2 separate regions of the Homo sapiens genome follow, and region 2 is linked to region 1. Evidence: fine-mapped expression QTL. A gene starts in region 1. The other region holds a variant in brackets. All regions are shown on one strand. Distances are between the middles of the regions. Region 1 holds the start of ARHGAP15-AS1 (ARHGAP15 antisense RNA 1). Region 2 has its middle 34 kb from the start of QTMAN-AS1.

What was found. PIP is the estimated chance that this variant, and not a neighbour inherited with it, causes the effect.
Region 2: its variant is fine-mapped to the expression of ARHGAP15-AS1 in spinal cord (GTEx, PIP 0.91).

Annotation. Positions count from the first base shown.
Region 1 is chr2:143,770,855-143,779,202 of GRCh38, reverse strand. It overlaps ARHGAP15-AS1 (ARHGAP15 antisense RNA 1), which reads left to right and starts at 3,105. Exons shown (of 8, transcript XR_007087251.1): 1 at 3,105-3,200; 2 at 3,845-4,020.
Region 2 is chr2:143,899,276-143,907,623 of GRCh38, reverse strand. No RefSeq gene overlaps it. Among named protein-coding and RNA genes, the nearest start is that of QTMAN-AS1, 34 kb to the left of the region's middle. RefSeq lists an enhancer at 408-966. The variant G/A (reference allele first, on the strand shown) is at 4,270.

The DNA.
Region 1 (8,348 bases):
TGAAAATTCATGGAATAGTGGCTAGTTCAGTGTGGATGACCTGTCAATTTGGCAGCCAATCAGTTGGTTAAACATCCAAATTACTGGCCAGTTACTCAGTCTAATGCTAGTCTTCCTGCTTGTTACTGGGTTCTATGTAATCCTATTAAAAGCAATGACATTCTCTTTGATTTGTGGCAGCTAATGGTGTAGAAGTACCACGCAGGCACAGGACATGTGTCTGGCACAGTTTTCACTTGGGCATTGTGAAAATGGACCACTTGTGTTACTGTTGGATTTATTCTTAAAACTCTAAATATCCTCTGTTGAATAACAGGCAAAGTATCTTAATTTCATGGGTGCACCCTATTTATTATTTTTATCAATTATAAATGGGAATTGCTCTAAGGATTGAATATTTTTTTTTTGATATGTACTAATTGATTTTGTTGGATCTATAGTTAGCTCCTTGGACTTGGTTGTACTGTCAGGCAGTTGGACAGAAAGCCGTGGAGACTCCTCATGGCCTGTTAGAACTTGGGATTTGATTGACAGTGACCCATCTACAGTTCAATTTAGACAAAAGATAGCAGTATTGATAGGCTGGGAAATGGATCTAGAACAGTAATTCCTAGTTACAGACCTCTTTGAGAATATGATGAAAACTCCAGACTTGGACTCCAGAAAAATGTGCCAAAAATCTAGCATGAAGGTTTTGAGATTTCCTGCATCTGTTGAAGTCCAGGGGTCCAGGGACCCACGAAACCTATGTTAAAATTCCTGTACTGAATGTCAGGGTATGGAGTGGGAATAAAGAGACACAGAGAAACAGAGAAGGAGGCACCAAGATAGAAAAAGATAAAAGAGCCACGGAAGAGAGTAGACTCGGAAGTAGAGAGAGACTGAGAGGCTGAAAGTAGATGTAACTGCAGTTCTCTTAGCCGAACATAATCTCGCAATGCTATACATAATTAGGTTCTAATAAACACTTTCTTATGTCCAGAATCTTGAGTTATTCTGTCAAATAAAAATCTCCCATATGAAAGACATGATATATCTTTCACCTGAGGATTTTTGACAGTGTTGAAAAAACATACAGGAACAAGCATTTCATTTTAAAGGCAAGCATGAAGATTTTTAAAAGAACAGTGTAAGTTAAAGGGTCAGTTGGCTTGTAAATGCAAAAGCTTTTGTGTTTACTGAAGGCCATTGGTAGAAAAATTGTAAAAATAATACTGATTGGGAAGCATCAGTCATACTTTTTTTCAAAGAGTTTTTAATATATAGTATTGTATTTTATTTTCACAACAACCCTTTTTGTTAGGTAGGGCAAAAACTGCCATATGTGTTTTGAACATGAAGAAATTGAGACATGTGTATGGAGACTTATCTGGAATGATGAATACTCCAGGAAAAAGTGAATTCTGGAAACCAGATTTCCCAGCTCTGATTCTCAGGTGAATCCATATATCCCTGTTAGATATTAACACCCACATAGCCAGTGTATATTACAAATATAGTGTCTTCTTGTTTCTTAAAATGAAATAAAATTGACGAATTGGAACATGAATTAAAAATAGTGTTCTTGAAATGGGACAAAATAACAGGATCGTAGAACTTTAGAATGTAGGAGACCCTAGACATGAATAATCTCACCTACTTGTTAAGGTCCTTGTTGAGGACAAGGACTTGTCCCAGAGGGCTTGAGATTTGAACAAGACCTGGTGAGTGGAGACATATGGGAGAGACACTAACAGCAGAATGAAATAAGGACTTGCTCTCAACTCTGCTTTTTTTCCCACTCCCACCCAGGGGAAGAAGCAGGATTTAAAAGCATCTATTCTATGTTTTATATAACTTAGATGGAATGTCTTGATAATAATTTTGAAAAATCAGGTGTGAATCAAATCCAGTTCTCTTCTCAGACTATACCTGGGAACTTTAAAATTCCAGTGTTTTCTCAGAAGTTGTCTGTATAGGATAATGTAAAATTCTTTACATTCTGTTGGCCTGGGAAATTTTACATGGCTAAGAAAATATAGTAGAATAATTGCTCTGCTTCTCAGACTATAGTAGAGATTCCTAGGTTAGCATAGGTAATTCATGTTTCAAGGATGAATATGGTCATATATATCCATACATGCCCATATTCAATTATTCATGATTGTGGTATATATATATATACACACACACACATGCATACACACACATACATATGATATATAGATATATAATTGTGAGCATTTATAAAAGCATTAGGTCTGCAGGATATTTAAACACTCTTCATTTGTAACTTGCATTTTAGGGGGAATTATTTAGCTATGCGAGATATCACCATATTCAGTTTTTTTAATATAATAAACATGTCTAGTCAAAGAAGGCATTAATGAAGCAATTCCCCAAATAAAACAGCCCATGATATCTGAGTTGCAGCAGAGAGAGAGTGTGGTCTTTGTAGTTTAATCAAGATCACAAGACTTGTTTTGAGCGTCTGTCATCTTTAATTTTACGGCACTTCATTTCAGAGTAGGACTGCCAGGGTCACATGCAATTAAAACACAGGCAAGACTTGTCTTGTGAAATCTTAACATAAAAAGTAATGTGTTACTCCATTTTAACTTTTCTACTGAACTCCGTGAACTCACTAATTACTTTTCCCCCCTCTTGTCACCTTTTTGATATGACATGTATTTTATAGAGGAGATAGAAATTTGGATTTTTTTAATATCATGCATATGATTGAGGATAACAAAATTAAACCAGAGAAAAAAGGAATGCGTTTTTCAGAAATACATTTTTTAGTAATATCTGAGTACTCCAGCTTCAATTACAAAGAACCTCATAGATCAAATTCTAGGAAATAACTGTTAATCTGCTTAACTAGGGCAGGTAGAAGTGTAATAACGGACCAGAGATTTTACAGAGGCCAGGATCGTGAACCGGAGTTTATTCTCTGGGGTGCGGGCAAAAGCGCTTTTATGTGATTGGCTGAGAAAAGCATTAAAAGCCAGCGCCTACGTGGAGATTTGGAGCACAAGGAGGGTTGTTGCATCATAGTGATCAGTAAATTGCATAGACCCTTATTAACCTTATTGATAAGGAGCTTAGGGAAGACCCAGGCAGGGCGCAATATATTCTTCTTTTTGTTCTCCTGTCTGTCTCCGTTTGCAATCCCAGCCGCTTTGTATGGAGAGCTTTTACGCAGCACCTGAAAATTCAATGTGAGTAGCTGCGCCTTTAAGTTAGAGCCAGGGAATGGAGCGGGAGCCAGCCCATGCACAGGGGGTTCAGGGCCTATTTAACTGGTGCTGGGGACACCTGGAGAATGTTTGAAAATTTTGTGCTTAAAGAATCTTTTATATTACTCCTCTTTCAATGCAGCTGGGGTCTGTAGGGATCAGGGGATTATTTTTGATACCTGTCGAAAAGAGTTATGTCTACACTGATTTTCCATCCCTCACTACTAATTAACCTTATTGTATACAGGAAACAGTGTATTTAATACCTGCATTCTTTCTGTAATGCCAAGTAAAATGAAATCCAGTGTGAAATCTAGTTAGCGTTTGCCTTTTTGAAGTCATTTTTAAGTTTCCAGTTTTAGTGACTGTGACCTCAGAACTGATAGCTAGAAAAATAGTGAGCTCAAACCAATTTTGGTTTCAATTGTATTCCTCACTCCTTCCAACTTTAAAAGCTGCCTTTCACCTGGTCTGGTGAGGAGAATGGAGGAATGGAACATCCCGAGCTGGACCACGTTTCTCTGGAGTCTTCCATGTTGGCCTCTGCCTGTGGTTGTGAGGTTTCCCTTTAGGCCGGCCCCATAGGCCGGCCCCTACTCCATTAACCTGGTTTCTCTCCTTGGCAGTTGAACACCTGTGTCCCCTTCTTTTCAATCTGGGAGGCTGAAATTTGACAGACACATCATGGCAAAGTTGTGCAGCAGCGATACAAGTAGATGCTGAAGAAAAGGGAGGAATCTGAGCGCAGGATAAAATGCTCAAGAAAATCCCATTGGTGGAATGTTTGTGAGAGAAAAAAAAGGTAGGGTCTAGCAAGAAAGAGCAGAAATTAAACTGTGTAAAATGTCACCAAATGATGTGGAAAAATCCACATGTCTTCAAGTATGCTGCACAATATGGACTTAGAACACATTTTGCGAGTGATGTGAGAATGGTTAGCACAATGGTTACATTCCTGCTCTTAAAATTCCAGTGTGTGTGTGCATGTGTGTGTGTGTGTGCATGTGTGTCAAGTAAACTTGTTAGCGAAAATAGTGCCAGAGGAAAGTGAGGATTTTCAGGCCACTGCCTTGTATTTTCCAGATTCCTTGGCTTTTGAGATTTTCATATGTTGGTCAGAATGCCTATGCCTTATAACATTTGTCTGACATGTAAACCACACATTGATAAGTGGAGAGAAGGTTAGTGGAAGATGCTGCTGGGTGTCACAGATGCCTAAGACCCCCTCCTCCTCCCAGCTGACTTGAACCGGGACATCAAAATTTGCTGTCAGACTTGCATGGGTTAGATTGGTGAATCTTACCATCTCTCCACTGCTTCTGTGATTTAGTAAGCATTTCTTAGGGACTTGCACTTCAAGAGAGGTAGCTGAAGGAATGTCTGTTTGATGGCCCTTGTTTAGGTGGGACTAAGAGTCAACACAAATACCACTGATTTGGCTGCACATAAGACGCTACATTTAACTTGATAGGAAACCTGACGGTGGATCATATTTGTATTTAATGTTGCTAGTGTTCTGGGTTTTTGTCTTGGTTCACTGATCCATCAAGTGTGCACAGAGCCCCAAGCACGGGCATGGTGTTGCCACTCTCACTTACTGCTTTCTTAGCGCTCTCCTTATTGAATGGGGAGTGTTGTATAGAATCCTACTGATGGCTTAAGAGTTTTGTGGACCCTGCATACTTTGCTTCAAGCATAAAATAGCAAAAATCAGTTGTATAAGTCTATAAGGAGTGTGTGTGTGTGTATATCCTTCTTCAGGTCTCTTACCAAGACAGCTAGGCATTTTCATCTGGACAACACTACTACAGAAAATTGTCATCTTTTTGTACAAAATGTTCACTGTATTCTCATCATTTAAATGATTCAAGATCACTTTCTGGCAGCATGAGACATGACATGTCTTGATGCCTGCCTCTTTTTCAATTATATTTAAGAGGAAGGCTGCTGGGACCCACATTTTTCATCTTTCACAGGACCCCTAAAGGGCCAGATTTAAGTTCAATACAATATTAGATAGTAAGGTATGATAGATGATAACAGGACACTGACAAATATGATCCAACACAGCATAATACAACATAACATGGGGTTGAAGCTACCCCAACAGGTACCTGTAAAGATGGGTAAAGAGGCTTCTGTTCTGTCCTTTCCATAATGCAGTAAAAAATTAGTACAATGTCTGCAAAACATGTAGGCAAACAAAATGCTACACAAATATTAAAATTATAGAAATAACATGCATGAGATTAACCATCTACTCATAAGAACAGAGGTACTCTGTATTTCTTTGAAAAAATTGTGTAATATCCCCCTTATTCTTTTATGAAAATTCATATGAAAGTAAAACTTTCATCAGGTGTTTTAACAGAATGACCAGGCACCCACACAAGTAGAAATACCTGGGGATGTTTATGCACTTACATTTTTTTCAGCATCTTTTCCTAATTAAGTGATCATATGGTACAGTGGTTAAGGCAGGTGCCTCTGCGCCATATTACTTAGATTCAAATATTGATCTGGCATATACTACTTACATGAACTTGGTAATTTCAGTATTTTTTTGCTCTCAATTTCCTCAAGTATAAATCAGGGATAATAGTGTCTTCCTTCGTAGAGTTATCAAGATTAAATAAAACAATATATATCAATTGCAGTTCATGGCATATAACAAGTGCTCTATAAATGTTAGCTAATCAAAATTAATCTTCCCAGGACTAATTTCTTGATGATCCTCTGGGTGGCCAGAGGAGCAATATTGGCTCAAGAAAAAGGAGGGAGAGGTCAGAGCCAGGTATGATAGAAGTGACCCTACGATCATCTGGGGATGATGCTGGTAGCATGCACACTCATTGACTTGGGCATGACTTGGCCAAAATGGTTACTGTCAAATGCCAAATCACTTTCAGAATCTAGAATTAACCTCCATCGCAACCCAGTGAGTAAGTCAGAAACGGGCCTGGTATGGGAGTTCTGCATAACAAGAGATGGTCTTTGCACTTAGCAGTCATAATGAAGAGATGGCAGGTAAGGCCCTGAAGAAGTTTAATAGTATGATGCACCATAATATCAATTTCTCTATCTGCTGCTGCTCTCTGAATTTAGACTTGCATTAACAGTCTTATAGCAATAATCTTCTGTCTGGCAATGGTGCCTATGATTTCTTCCTGCTTCAAATTCCACTCCATAATGTTGCCATGAGAATCTTTACAGCTTTGATAAAGTTACTTCCCCGCTAAAAAAAGACCTTCAGGGTCTCAAAATTGACTAGAAACTTAGGATAACACATCTTAGTACGGCATTCAGGATTTTTTTTTGAGTCTGGTCCCAACCTTCCTTCTCATTGTTTTCAGAACATAAAGTTATTATTAGTTAATAAACTGGAAATCCATCATCCACATCTTTTAGGAATAACTTGGAATTTCATGGTGTATTACCTGTTTTAATTTCCTTCATATGATTCCATTACATAGCCCTGAAAGGCAAAATAAGACAAGTAGAAAACAGATACCCAGCTTGAGTGAGTAATTTGCTCAGGGTCGACACAGCAAGTTCTCCTAAGTGCAAAGTGTACACGTTTTCTGCTCTTTCCCATTGCTCGGGCTCCTCATCCCCACAATCTGCTCCGTGTGCGGCCACTTTCTGGGGAGCAAACTTTGTGACACTGAGGTCCTTGGGCTGAGTCCACAGAGCTGTGTTTTATTTGGTGCCCTTAAAAAACAGATTTCACACAAGATCCTGAATTTCTGGCTTTTCATGAAAGAGCTGAAGGTCTGGCAACATTGTGCCCACATTCCCACATAAGCAACATCGGCTCCAGCTGAGTAGAAGCCGACCCTTTTGGCCAGGCGTTAAGCTTGACTTTTCCACAGCTGCTGCTTCATACGCCTGCTGCCTGCTCCTCTTGACTCGTTTCTATCACTGCCCGGCCCCACTAGGCATCTGAATTTGCAACCCTTGTTTTAAAGAAAGAGAAAAAAGGAGACATCTGTGTTCTAAAGATAAGATCAAACAGGGTTGAAAATATAAAATGTGATTATTATATTTCCAGAAAGTCCTCATTTTTTGGTATTAAGATGTAAGTTTCCTGGGAGAGAGTTGATGTTGTTTTGGTTTTATTCCTCATTTTTGACAACAGAGCAATTTGACCCAGAACCCTTAGCAACAGTCCTTTTTGGATGAAAATCTTTGCAGGGCCTTTTAATTAGGAATTGACAGGGTGATTAACTTATAATTCACAAAAATAAATGTGGAAAAGAGAAGTACAGGTCAATTTCTAGCTGTGTTAAACTGTAAGGACAGCACTATTGGCAAGTGATTGCTTCCTTTTAACAGCTTTTAAAATTTTTCTTAATTGGATCGTTTGTTTTCTAATTGGATAGGGAGAACCATCATATGGCTTTCAATTACTAGTTGTGGCATGGTGATCCTGTCATATGGCACATGCTAAGAAAGTCAGACTGTCAACATATAAGATGAAATATATACCATCTCCAAGCAGCTTTCTGTGTCAATAAGAAAGAGGGGAAACCTCTGATATCCTGGGTAGGTAAAGGCGTGCTGAAATGGGACATAATAACTAGCTTGATTTTCTAGGGACTTGTGTTTCCATTCTACAGACTAAGTTACAATTTCTTAAAATGTTTCATCATCATAACTAGAACTGACCCTAAGAATATAAGATTATAATTTTATTTCACACACAAACACATACATGAGAAAATGCTGGTCTCCTCAAATTAATTTTTTTCCTGCCCATTGGTGAATTTAGAGATTCTCTAAGAAACAAAGTTTCTCTATAGCTTTCTGGCTTTACAGCCTCTATGGGATCCCTTTTGCCTACAGGATAAAATCTGAATATGTTATCATGGCTGATATCTGATCCCAACATCTTTCTCTAGCTTTATATTCCAAAATTGCTAGGCATGCACTTCACCCTTTATTCACTGAACTTCTCACTTTTCTTTGGAGAATGTCAGGTCTTTCATGACTCTGTTCGTGCCATTCCTGTTTCCTGGTGTGTTTTCTGCATTTTTCTTTGGTAAATCTTGTTCATTGGTCAAGATTAGATAGAAAAGGTTACCTTCCCAATGAAGCCACATCTAACTCTGTAACAGAGTCAGAGGACAG
Region 2 (8,348 bases), 130 kb before region 1:
TTAATGCACTCATTAATGATCTACCAATCAATATCAATTGAAGGTCTATTATTTTAAGGAGGATGGGCAATTAGCAGTTTGACACCATGAGAAAGAGATAACCAGCTGACTGATGGGTCTCCATCAAGTTTAATTTTAATTTGTTTTAAAAGGATCTTCTTTAGGAGTGAGTTTAGATGCACATCACTCTTTCTTCTTTCAGAAAATGAATATATATGTTGTTTAAAAAGCATATCAGAATGACAAAGAATACAGTCTGGCATATGTAGCAAGAAATGAGCACATCTAAATGGGCTGGATGGTATGGTGTAAGTTCTATTCTCTCGCACAGTAATATAACTGGATTGCTCTTTAAAGTAAGTGAATTTGTATGTCCGCTTTCTCTTAATGGAATCAGTTTTGATATACTCTTTGTTCATGCTGTTACTGGCTTCAGTCTAAGGTTTCTTTGTATTAACTTTTTAAAGTTACATTACAAAGAGGTTTTAAGATTTCCCAATAGGCTTTTATTTAACTGAAGCTTTTGATCTCAAACCTGCTGGGGCCTAGTGAAATCCTTACCAATTCTCCAGTAACTCCTCACTATTGGAATTTGAAAAGACCCACCTGAAGGATTTAACTCCCTGTATGGCTTCAGCCACCCTTCAGATCGTGCTATTCAAGCAGACAGCGAGGGGTTCTAGTGTACCCTTTGTGATCGCTAAGCAGCCTAAGGTGTCCTTTGCAGAAGTTGTACTCCTGAGGAAATAAAAATCAGGAGGACACAGACCTATATACCTTGTTTCCTGCTATCTTCAGTTAAAGGGGGATAGCAGGGGTCTGCTTAACATCCTTTGCTACCTAAATACCTTTTGGACATGGGAACTCTATAAAAGAACTTTCATTGCATCCATTACCCTACTGCAGTGCATAACAAATTAGATTTAAAAGGCTACTTTTTTTCCCTTACAGCAATTTCCATCATTTTCTTTAAAATTTCAATTTAGTGTCTAGTGACAGAATATTCTATAATGTACTTTAAAACTCTATAATGTCAATTATGCTAACTGAATATTATTTCCAAAGAATTAGGCTTATGTTATTACAGAAAAATCTTAGTTTAAAAGATCAAGTAAAGAGAGAAGTAGAGAATTGATTCATGCTCAAAAGGTGTTAAATATAAAACTAGATAAAACAAATACTGTTTCTGGAAATCTTTTTAAAAATGCAAATACGCATTAATTTTCTATTTAACCCTCAACTCCCAGTTTTAGAACAATTTTGTATTTTAAGTTGAAAAACGTTAATGCCAAATATTAACCTATTTTTAGAAAGGGTAAAATAATTCTAAGAAAATTCCCAATTATAGTATTTAGATATCTTTATTTCATTTGAAAACTCCATCGTGCAGAGATTTTAGAACATGTAAACAACAGTAAGCATGAAAAGCAAATAAAACTTCATAAAGAACACAATATTTGCTGCTGTGTGTGGGGAGAACAGATGTAGCTATGCACCACTTCTCCTGTGTAAACATTTATCTTTGCCTTTCTATTAACCTGATGTAAAGCCTCTTCATTATTAAAAAATTATTTAAATTCTATGTTGATAAATAGAAATCAACTTATTCCTATGTTACTTCTTTGTATCGGATGTTACTATCTGGGACAAAGCCTCAAGTTAGCTTTACATCAAAGAACCAGAAAGAAATGTGTTTCCAGAAGTTGTAAAATGTTTGCCATTTAGTTCCACTGTGATTCGAGGACATATTCTCTCACACTGTACATGCGCCACATATTACTAGACCTCAGAGGTTCATCCATCTCAGGGTGGTTTCACCCCTTTGGGCTCTCGTGTAACTACAGAAAACCAGTCTTGAACAATCTCAATTCTGAACATGTGGTAGAGTTGTCAGAGAATGTTTTCAGTCTGGGTTTGAGGACTAACGTTACCATACCTGTAGAACATGACATAATTGTTTCATATCTTGATTTACTAATTTCCATAAACATTTGTTACACATCTCATTTGTAGATCTTTATGAGTAGCTGCCTAGTGGAATGTTATTTTCTGCATTTAATAATAACTGATTATATGAAGATAAGGTGATATGAATTCTTTCTCTGGAGAAATAGGGCTCAAAGACTTGCAGAACTGTGAGAATGGGGGAAATTATGAAAAAAATTTGGATTTTTATGGATAACATAATACAAATGTTACTTAAGATATGTTGTGTTCCAGTAATACTCTGCTCCTTTGTAAAAACAAACAAAGAAACAAACAAAAACTATGCATTTTTAATGTGTGGGCAAAAGGTTTAACAAAGTATTTCTCATAATCCAAAATTTACCCTCATCACTCTTATTCATAGTATAAATAGTTACAATTTTGGAGATAGTCTTGCAATATTTATCATTTTAAAAATATAGATCACCTTTGATTAAAAACATGACACTTTCAAAAATTTAGCCTCTAGGGATACTCACAAAATTGGTATAGCTGTACTTAGAAGAATGTTCATTAGAGCATTATGTGTGAGAATAAAAAATCATGGTCAATCTAAATGTCCATCAATGTGAGATTGTTAATAAGATATCAGATATCCTTGGTAACAGTACTATTGTGGTCTCATGCCTACGAAATGTCAAGAAGCAACTAGTTAATGGACACGGCAACCACTTTGAGTAGATGTTATTAATTTGACATTTATGGGTTTAGAAAGCAAAGCACAGATAAATTAAGTAACTTGTCAAAGTCACAGAATTACTAATGCTGGGGCTAGGATTCAAATGCAGCTAAGCCATTTGGTCCCAAAGCCCACGATCTTATCCCTTCTACTATGATGCCCATAGAGATTCCAAGAATGAGGCAGTTTTGACGGCTTCAAATGGAAAAGATGTCCAAGAATTATTAGACATAAAAAAAATGAAGTCACAAACAGAAGGTATAGTATGGTGTCATTTTGGTAAAAGTTATATACATATTAGAACACTTGGAGAGGAAATCTGAAGAATTATTCACCAGGTTGTTTATATGAGAGTTTCTGTGGGTGGGAGTCTCCAATTCTGTTTTATGTATCTGTAATATTTAGATATGTTATAAAAGTATATGATAACAATAGTTTTTTAAAATATCAAAATATAATTGGAAAATTAATAACAGCAGTGAATTATTTTATCAACATATGTAGTATTATTTTCAGAATCTCAAGTGCTGGCAGTCAGTTTGGCCTTTTTTTTTTTTAACAAAGCAGAAACAAATTGTATCACATAGAATGTTCATAATATGGACATTAATTATCACAGTTGGTGTTTGAGGGAGGCTGGTGTTCTATGATAAAGAAAGCTACAACACTGAGAGTTTTTTCCTATATAAGCAAATTTTGCAAGTGATTTGTCTTTTAACTATTGAATAAAAGTACTTTTTATCAATAGAGTTAAACTTATTTTTATTTCACATTCCCTGTATTAGAACATGAATATTTATTCTTTTAAAGCTTTTTATTTTTTGTGGAAAGAGGATTCTCTCAACCTTTCTAATATATAAAAACACTTACTCACATTTGCACTTATAAACTGCTTACATGGGCAAACATTGCATTCCAGGTTCCTAGGGAGGGAAATTCTGCATTTTATTCTGAAGTTACAAAAGATAATTAATACACTACTGGGCTAAGCACTAGGTTTAGGCTGGCTCTAGCCCTACTTTATGCATTTCAGCATTGAAAAAAAAATCAGTGATGGGTAATGCTATCAAAAATGCTAATCCAAAGCTTTGCTTATGGATATCATATTATTTTAAAAGGTAATAGAGAACATTCCCTGTAATCAAGGGTGAGTCAAGGAAAATGGCATCTAAGGGAGTATGTCAGCCAAACAGAAAACTTGACCCAACACCAAGCTCATTGTCAGAATCACAGCTGCCTCATCAACCAATGAGACTGAAAGGGAGGCAGCCGGTAAGTCAGGTGCCGAGGCTGGAAAGACTCTGTGCCAGACCCATTGGCAGTTGGCCCTTCAGCTGCTGTACAGCCTCGGTAGGGGCCCAGGGGTATTGAATCTGGTTTTGGACCACAGGAGGAGAGTGAAGTGAAGTACAACCAATATTGTCAACAGCAAGATCGTCAAGTGAGTCCTGATAATATATTCATGGAAAGATATATTGTTCTGCTTCTAGGTTCTGTAGGGAAGGAGGGCCCAGGGAGAATGCATGTTGCAACTCTGCAAGCAGAATCTACCCCTCTGCCCATAGAAGCTGGTTGTGGTTGTTCAGTTTTCCTTTAGCTTTTTG[G/A]TTTCATTTCTGCAAGTGGCATGTTTTGGTTGCTAAGCAAGGTGTTGCAAAATATGAGGTGAGATGTCAATATAACTTTAAAAGGGGAGATGTGGTCAGAAGGGACGTAATACTCAGATTTTAAGAAGAAAAAGGATTTTTGAATTTGGCATTATTAACAGAGAGCTGTCATGTTCCTTTCCCTCAACAGAGAAAATAAGTGACCCAAAATAGAAAATAAATGACCCTTTCTGTGATTAGCAACTCACTGTGTTTGTTTAGTGTCAAGAATGCTATTAGTAACTAATAAAAATTTATAATCATGAGATCACCTCCCCAAACAAAAATGAATAAACAGAGAATACATCTTTATAGCAAGTCTAATGACACCTTTGCAGCTAAGGAGTCTGGACCTAGCAGAGTATCCTGCATGCCTAGAGCAGGCATTTCATAAATGTTGAAAAATGAGTGTTGTTTGCTGAATATTGAACTTGCCTTTGCAGTCTATATCCCTCCCCAAATAATCAGCCTGTTGTATGACCTCCAGATTTATATTATTGCACCGTCACTTTGGTGCTGAGATTTGGCATAATTACTTTAGGAAAATATCCCTTATTGATACACACATTAGTCCACTGTAGTGAGTGGCACCTGGTATGGGACCCTAAACCTGATACATTCTCAATAAATGCTTGTTAACCTGAATAGTCACTAGGAATTGTGAGACATTATGGGGAGTGTGAAAGACATTATAATTTCTTATCATTTATTTACTTGCTTATTTTTACTTTTTTGAAGATGGGTTTTTAAATGTTTTTAATTTTCTACCAGCTTTATTGAGGTATAATCGGCACATAATAATATATATTTAAAGTATACAATATAATGTTTTGATGTATGTACACATTATGAAATGATTACCACAATCAAGCTAATGAACAAATCCATCACTTCACATAGTTACCTTTATGTGTGTATGGTGAGACACTAGAGGTTTATTCTCTTAGCAAATTTCAAGCACACAATACATTATTATTTAAACTACAGTCACCATGCTGTACATTAGGTATCCAGAACCTATGCATCTTAGAACTGCAAGTTTGTACCCTTTGACCAATATCTCCCCCTTTCCATCAGTTCTTACCTTTTAATGGGAGCTATGGAAGGTACAGGACAAATACAAATGAAATATAATAGAAATATACTAACATATAAATAACTTTGGAAAGTATCATGTACATATGCAGACATAAGAGGCATTTGTTGTGGCCAGGGGTTAACTTTCCAGATGGAAGTTATGGAAGAGATGGCTAGAATTTATGATAACTGCTAGCATTCATTAAACAATTTCTACTGGCCATGCACAATGCTTTAGATGTATTGATTATCTTACTTGATTTTCACTACAAACTTAAAGTAGGTAATACTATTTTTTCCATTTTATAGATATGAAAACTAGGGCTCACATTGACAAATTAATTGTCCAAAATTAGTAGGGAGGCAAGCCGAGGTCTGCACTCAGAAAATCTGGCTCAGAGACTTCATATAAGGACATATAATCATATGAAAAAACAGGAACCTTATGGTCATAAATCTTGAAGTCTTGGCACATTCTTCAGGCATAACCACAGCTGCATATTTAGGACTTAGTTGAGAACTGGGATATCATTCGGCTAAGAGTGTATCTCTAGGAACTCAGTTCACTTTTTGTCCTGTTGGGGGCCAAGAAATTGAGACCCCCAAAATATGGCACTTTGGTGTGATAAGTACCTTGAACTATGGAAATTGGAATGCCTCAGAAACAGCCTCAGAAGCAAAGTCTCTCTCTGACTTTCTCTTGCCTTTCTGTCTCCCGCTCCTCTTTCTCTTCTAAAATGAGTCACAGAAACTAGAATTCCTCCTTCCTTAAGGTGAGTCATAGAAAGGAGAACCTCTTTCCTCTAAGCAAACCACAACATGTAGAAATATGACTTGAATCTTCTCCACCTTTCTGTCTAGGATCTGGTCAGAAGAGATTTTCTGACCTAATATGTCCAATAGTCGTAAGACCTCATTCCAGAGGGCTCCTGCCTGATACCCAGGAGGAAAGAACGCTACACAAAGGAGCCAAGAATCTGAACACACAGGCCTTGCTGGGTTCCCCCTCTGTCTGTTACTGTTAGGTTATTCATTTTTTATCCAATTGCATTTCAACATGGCTGTCCACTCTTCATGGAATCTAAGATTAAAAATTGACACTTTTCCCTGGGTCTTGGGTCTTCATTCTGAAGGCTCCTGCATCATGTAAAACTTTGATAAAATAAATTTGCTATGCTTTTCTCTCGTGAACCTGTCTTTATCATAGGAGTGTTGGCCGTGACCCTTAGGGGAGTGAGGAAAGGGATCACCCCTTTCTCCCCCGGTCTCCTCACAGCCAGGGTTTGCAGTTGTCCTTTCTTGATTGTCACTATCCTCGTGAGGTTCTCCGTCCCTGCTCTTGTAGGAACGCTGCTCCTTGCCATTGCCTACCCTGATGCCTCACATTCATATGCCTTGGAAACAGGCTTGGGGATCACATACACTGTGCTCATGTCTCTGTCTCTCTGTCAAGTGACTCTGTCTCCAGGACACGTCAGAGACCCAGGCCCTCAGGAGGCATCAGTCTTTGAGTAAAGCTGAGGTCATGTAGAATTGGCATGGCCGGGTGTGACGGTTACTTTTCTATGTCAACTTGGCTAGGCCATGATAGCTAGTTTTTGGTTAAACATCAGTCTAGATGTTTCTGTGAAGCTGTTTTTTAAACGTGATTAACATCTAAGTTAGTAGACTTTGAGTAAAGCCGATTACCCTCCATAATGGGAGTATGGAGTTCTCCTCCAATCAGTCGAAGGCCTGAAGAGAAAAGACTGAGGTCTCCTGGGAAAGAGGGAATTCAGCCTCCAGACTGTCTTCAGGCTCAAGATATAATACCAACTCTTTCTTGGGTCTCCAGCCTTTGGCTTGCCCTGAAGATTTCAGACTTGCTAGCCCCCACAATTGCATGAGCCAATTCCTTAAATCTGTCTCTGTCTCTCTCTCTCTTTCTCCACACACGGACCCACACCCACAAACACGCATATATACACACATATATACACACCCATATATCCTGTTGGTTCTGTTTCCCTGGAGAATCCTGACTAATAGACCAGGGTAGTAGGTTCATGAAGATAGTGACCTTTGATAAGAAAACGCATTGTGTTCAATATAATGAGAAGCGATAAGAATGAAAACTAACTAGTTGATCTGAGAAATGAGTGACAAGACTAAGAATACCTTAAATAAATAAACATGAGATTGCTTTGAGTTGGCACATGGAGTATCAGACAGTCAATCATAAGAAAAGTTCCATTATATCTAAAGCTGGTGCTTCCAGCGACAGAAAAACAAGGAGGATGGCTTAGTAGAAATTCAGCTAGTGACAGGGATGGGGATCTTAGTTTTATTCAGCATCTACTAGATATCAGGCCCTTTTGTGTACCTGAACTCATTTAATTATTATAATATCCTGCTTTGTCAGAGCCTGAAATGTAAGGGGATCAAGTAACTTGCAACTGATTTCCTTAGAAAGTGAGTGATGGACTTTCTTTGTGACTATGGATACCTCAAAGTTGCTCTTTGCTTGTTTGTTGCCTTGCCCTTGCCGCAGAGCTTCTGTACATGTTATTATGCCCTCAGTGTGGACAGCTGCCCCTAGTTCATGCTTCCTCATCTCTTAAATAGGGGCCTGAACACTCTCTTCAAGAACTCATTTTCTGTTCTCATCCAGGCTGGCTCAGGACCCCTTATTTTTGCTCTCCAAGCCCCTAGCACTTTTTTTTCCTTCATAGCACATGTCATTATGTGTTTGTGGGCGATTACTTTTTAAATTAAATCTCTACAATAGACTGTAAGTTGCATGAAAACAGGGAACTGCATCTATTTTTTTTATCATTGTATCTCCAGGGCCTAGTGTACTACTTAGAGCATGGTAGTGACTCAATAAATATATGTTGAATAAATACATTTAAATGAATTTGAAATCAAGTATGTCTGAGGGCAAAACTCATGCTCTTTTCCATTGGATCATATTGCTTTTTGAT